Regions from separate parts of the Homo sapiens genome. Here region 1 is linked to region 2. Evidence: fine-mapped expression QTL. A gene starts in region 2. The other region holds a variant in brackets. All regions are shown on one strand. Distances are from middle to middle. Region 1 has its middle 62 kb from the start of OSTF1. Region 2 holds the start of OSTF1 (osteoclast stimulating factor 1).

Region 1 (3,017 bases), 61 kb before region 2:
AACTCGGCCGGGCACAGTGGCTCACGCCTGTAATCCCAGCACTTTGGGAGGCCAAGGCGGGTGGATAACTTGAGGTCAGGAGTTCGAGACCAGCCTGACTAACATGGTGAAACCCTGTCTCTACTAAAAATACAAAACTTAGCCAGGCGTGATGGTGCACACCTGTAGTCCTGGCTACTCGGGAGGCTGAGGCAGGAGAATTGCTTGAACCTGGGAGGCGGAAGTTGCAGTGAGCTGAGATCGCATCACTGCAGTCCAGCCTAGCAACAGAATAAGACTCCATCTCAAAAAAAAAAAAAAAAAAAGAAGAAGAAAAAGAAAAACTCTACTACCACATATGAAGAAACCTAAATGACTGGAAGGCAACATCATTGTCCTCCACTCATTTTTAAAGTATTTTAGGAAATTCTGCTCTTCAATATTGGTGGTGAAACTGAAAAACGTGTTGACACACTCCTTTGTATAACACACATATCTGGTTTTAATGCAGACTTCCCTGTTCATGGTTATACCCAACATTAACTGAGCAACTGCTCAGTAGTAGAGTTTTTCAGGAACTAAGTCATTTGCATATATGATTTTATTTAATCCTTCTAACTCTAGGCAGTAGATACTACCACTTCCTCCACTGCACAGCTAGGGAATCTGGGTGTTTAGGTAACCTGTCGCAGGTCACTCAGCAGAATCAGGCTTGAATCCAGACAGTGTGATTCCAAAGCCCATACCCCTCACCACTTCTCGAAGCATTCTACTAATTTCTGTCAGAACTATGGGTCATTTAGAAAAGGTAACCATTTTTCCTTTGAGGCTCAGCCTCTTCACTCCTTGTCTATTCCTTCCACTTTCCTTCCTGCTTCCTGTCAGGCTGTCTAATGTATACCTTTGGATTTCCTCAGTGTTCTTTTCCGGGCACCGCGAGGAACCTGGCCTCCCTGTGGCTCCCAGTTGCCCACAGGGCTGAGCCTGCTGGGAAACCCAAGCCGCTGGCCACTGGCGACAGACACAGCAGCACTGCCTGGGAATTGTGAAGTTACTTACCTCCATGTACACATCGAGCTCCCAGACTCAGGTAAGACCACATCCCCTGACCCTTCCAAGGGATGCATTTATTTTCATGGTTACACAGAAGTGAGGAGCTCTCAGACTCTCTGAGAGAACTGCTGAACTTAGCAATGTAAACTCAAAGCAAAATGAATAGGTGCTGATCTAAGCTTTCCTTCTCTTATACTTACTCATACTCTAATGTGTACAGAGTAGGAAATTTTGGAAACTTGGGAGTAAAACCTGCTTCATTAAATATTTCTTTAGGGTTACTGGGAACTAAAAGTTTGGTGAAAATTTCTCTGGAAGCGCTTAGGGTCATTTTAAATAAATTATGAATTGATTAGCAGATATGCTGAATTTGTTAGATGCCTATATCAAGGGCTTCCGTTGGAAAGAAGCTGTCCTGTTTCTGCAGATTTTTCTGAGAGAATGTGAATGATGACATCTGACTGTTGCAGCAGGCAATAGCGCGTGGGTTCCCCAGACCCGTGTGTCCACCTTCAACCAGTTCCTTCACTTCTTCAAACCTCAGCGTCTCTGTAAAAAGTTGGGGCATTAACATTCCTCGCCTAAGGTTACTGCAAAGATCAAATGACATCATGTCTGTGAAAATGTCTCGCACAGGCACTGGAAGAGTAGACATTTCATAAATGGTAGTTTTATTTAATTTCATGTCATTTTAAGGGAGGGGCAGATGTAAAAGCTTGTTATTGA[G/A]AAATAAGGAAACAGAAGCCACAAATTTGTGGTCTGCAATTTTTCCTTCACATGAGAAAACTGTTCACCAAAGCTATATTTGCAAACAGGAATACCAGAATCTTTTACAATATTTCTCCCACTAAAACCTCAACTTTTAGTAATTGGACACTTCAAAGTTTGGCTATACAATCTTTTCCTGCAATATACATATTTACAATATAAAAATCAAGACAAAAAATACACAGTCTGAGTCAATAGGGAAGGCAGATAATCAGATGTAAATGTTAGGTTCCACAGCCTATCAGAAAAGAAATCATCATTTACAAAGATGATAAATATAGTGCTCACAATAAGAAAATTAGTAAATCAGAAACTCTACACAATAAAAAACATTTATGAAGAAGGCTTATGTGGAAAAATTACATTTCCATCTTTAAAATTATCTGCAAATTACCTAAAATTTCGTTTTCAGCATTATTTCCTTTTTTTTTTTTTTTTTTTTTTTTTGAGATGGAGTCTGTCTCCATTGCCCAGGCTGGAGTGCAATGGCGCAATCTTCGTTCACTGCAACCTCCGCCTCCCGGGTTCAAGCGATTCTCCTGCCTTAGCCTCCCAAGTAGTTGGGATTACAGGCACCCGCCACCATGCCCAGCTAGTTTTTTTTTTTTTTTTTTTTTTTCCTAGTAGAGACAGGGTTTCACCATGTTGGCCAGGCTGGTCTCAAACTCCTGACCTCAGGTGATCCTCCCGCCTCGGCCTCCCAAAGTGCTGGGATTACAGGCGTGAGCCACCGTGCCTGGCCTATTTCCAGTTTTTTTTTTTTAAGATTAATAAAATGGAGTCGCCATTGCTTTGTTCAACATTTCCCTTTGAGTAATAACATAATTAATCTACTGAAAAGAGGAGCCATGGGGGCTTATAAAGAAATGCTGTAATACATGTCAGCCCAACAACAACAAAATGTGCAACAGAACAGCCCAGAAAGAAAACTGAAATGGGAACCTCTGATAAGAATTTTTCTTTGCATGAGGCTCCTGGGCCTACAACTAAACAAGTATCGCACTGCCCAAGTAGCTGGAAGGCATTTCCTATTTAAAGGGTGCAATCACTAGAAAGGAGTTCAGGCCACAGTGACTGTCAGCAAGCTCAGATTACAGCAAAACCTCTGAAGTTATTTCCAAAACATAATCAGAGCTCTCCTCTGCACAGTCAGAGCAGTGGCAAATTCCTAGAACTGATTTTTGTTGCTGAGTTCAGCACTAAACAATCTCTGAGAA
Region 2 (2,712 bases):
AATGCAGAACCCAACTCTAGCTGTGCCCCATCTTTGCCCAGGGCAGAGCCAGTCTCAGCAACTTCCTTCACACTCAGCCCACCAAGATGTCAGTCCTCAGTGAAGCACTATTCCACATACGTACGTACATGATTATCAAATAAAGGGACTTCATACTCCAACTGCAGGAACGCAAAGAAACAAAACTAGATAAGTATGAAAGCTATAGAGTTTAGGAAAATCAAGGAAAAAAGTAATCACTGAAACTCATCTCTTGCAAAGAAAGTTACTTCAAAATTTGACGTAAATGGATTAAATTTCAGCATTTCGCTATACCGAAATTACACTATGGGAAGAAAAAACCCAAGAATACATCGGAGCCATTTATCTTCCATTTCCTGTATTTCCCTTAATTACCTACCCAAATGAATGCACGTAAGAGTTGTTAAAGTATTGAAATACGTCAGTCCTTTCTAATTACCTACCCAAATGAATGAGCGGAACAGTATGTTACAACTTTTAATTAAAATACGTCAGTTTCTTTTACAATTATCTTATTTCTGCATATCACAGAAAATATTCTAAGAACAGAGCAAAAATGAACAAGGACAATCCGCCCAGAAAACTGCTTTGAGGAATTTAGTAATCTCAGCCCTCTCAGGTTTAGCACGCCAACGTCTTTGGGAGAGCAAAGGCAAAGGAGATGATAAAATGACACTTCCAAATAGCAACAGCTGAGATCACTGCCGCATCCTAGATTCTTTCCACCAGGAGCGCGAGTATAGGGTTTTTTTCTAAACGCTCTTCCCAAGATCCCGAGGTCAATTTCAAACGCTGCTCCACGCTTAAGTCCCGAGGGAGGCTCGCTCGCCCACCCCACCCTGCAGGGATTGCACTTCCCGTTCGCTCTGGCCGGTCAGGAACCCTAACTTGACAGTGACAAACACTGAGAAAAGAGGAAGTGGCTAAAGATCATTTCATGACATTTTTTAAAGGGAGATCAATGGCCCTGTCTTTCCGGAAAACTTCCATGGGACGTTGCCATCACACCCTCTGAAAGTTTCAGCGAATGACAACGTAGCAAAAGTGAGGGCTACTCCCCTTTAAATATATATATATATATTAATCCTCGAAATCCTCTTGCTATCAAAATCGATCCCTCCTCCGTAACAGCGAACGCAAAACTAAGAGCGCCCATCCCGGTGGGGCCGATCTCGGAAGCCAGGCTCGGGGCCGGGTGCGCGCCGGGTCCTCCCTGCCAAGCTGCAGAGGAGGCGCCGGCACCGCGGCGGTCGCAGGACCTGGCAAGCGCCTACCTTACCTCCCTCACCTGGTTTGACTGGTTTGGGTGGCGGCTTCGACATCTCGCTTCCTGGAGCTGCAAATCCTAAAGACCCCGCCGAAAAGCCCACCGCTTGCCCGCCACCTGGCACTCCGGGCACCCCAGTTCTTTTTGTCTGGCTTACAACCGTGCGCCTCCTAGGACCGGCGCCCACCCTTGGCTGCGGGAAGAGCGGACGCAGGCAGAGCGGCTCCGCCGAGTGCTCCGCCCCGCCCCGCGGCCGCCGGAGCAGTCCAGAGCGCGCGCCGGGCCGACGAGGAAGTGGACCCCGCCTAGCCGAGCGCTAATTGGCTCCCGGGCTGGCAGCTTCGCCGCAGCAGGAGCGCGGGCGGCGCGCACGGCGGCGGAACCAGCCGGAGCCGAGCGAGGGCGAAGCGGGCGTGCGCCAGTGCAGTGCCGCGGGCCGCGCGCGCTCCCGATAGGGAAGGGCCGGAGCTGCGCAGGGGCGCGCGGAAGAGGCCAAGCTAGCCGGAGCCCCGCCCCGCCCCGCCCCGCCCCAACGGGGGCTGGAACCCGGCGCCGAGAGTAGAGAAAAGGGGCCTCTGGTGACCGCCCCTACCTGGCATCCCTCTAACCCAGGAGGAGCGTGGGGAAAGGGGCTGTGGGCCTCTCGGGGAGCGAGCTGCGGGTAGCGGCGCACTGGGTACAGGCGCGCGCTTGGCTGTCGCCTCTGCCGCTGTGTTTGGGAGGACTCGAACTGGCGCCAGGTGAGTGCGTACCTGCTCGCCCCTGCCGCGCCGCGCCGCCTTGCTGGGGCCTGGAGGTGTTTCCAGAGGGTTTCTGTGCTGGAGCCCGGGACTTGGTTGCGCCCTGAAAGCCTTGCCTGGACTCTTGCCACCCTCACAGAGCTGATAGGTGGCCTGCCGAGGAGGACGTGTACTCATGGTGGCGTGGTGCTCTAGCGCCCCGGAATAATCCTGAAAATGGGAACGCTGCCTCCAAGAGACCGCGCAGCCTGGAGAAGTCGCCAGGGACAGGATCAGGACTTGATCCTCGCGGATCGATATGGTCTCATTCCTCTAGCGTTGGGGTGATGACCTACTGCCCGCCTGCTGCCTGTTACTGTAAGGCCTGCTAAGAATTTTTTTTTTTTTTACTTTTTTTAATGACTGAAAAGAAATAAAAAGAAATATAATACTTTGTGACACGTGAAAATTACATGAAATTACGATTTCAGTGTCCGTAAAATTTTACTGGAACACGGTCACGCTCATTTGCATCTGTGTTTTCTGTGGCCGCTTTCGCATTACCCAGCAGGGTTGAGTAGCAGCTGGCAAAGCCCAAAGCATTTCCTGTCTGGCACTTTACAGAAAAAGTTTTCCTACCCCTGATCTATCGGATTGAATCTTCGGTGGGAGGAAAGAACTGGAGCACACAAGGAAGCCAATGGC

What was found.
Region 1: its variant is fine-mapped to the expression of OSTF1 in blood mononuclear cells (TOPMed, PIP above 0.99). The same link has a PIP of 0.9 or more in T cells, monocytes and whole blood.

What each region holds. Positions count from the first base shown.
Region 1 is chr9:75,148,662-75,151,678 of GRCh38, reverse strand. No RefSeq gene overlaps it. Among named protein-coding and RNA genes, the nearest start is that of OSTF1, 62 kb to the right of the region's middle. The variant G/A (reference allele first, on the strand shown) is at 1,759.
Region 2 is chr9:75,087,324-75,090,035 of GRCh38, reverse strand. It overlaps OSTF1 (osteoclast stimulating factor 1), which reads right to left and starts at 1,522. Exons shown (of 10, transcript NM_012383.5): 1 at 1,310-1,522. The coding sequence starts at 1,343. NMRK1 (nicotinamide riboside kinase 1) reads left to right here and starts at 1,881. Exons shown (of 9, transcript NM_017881.3): 1 at 1,881-2,028. RefSeq lists silencers at 1,132-1,221, 1,412-2,011.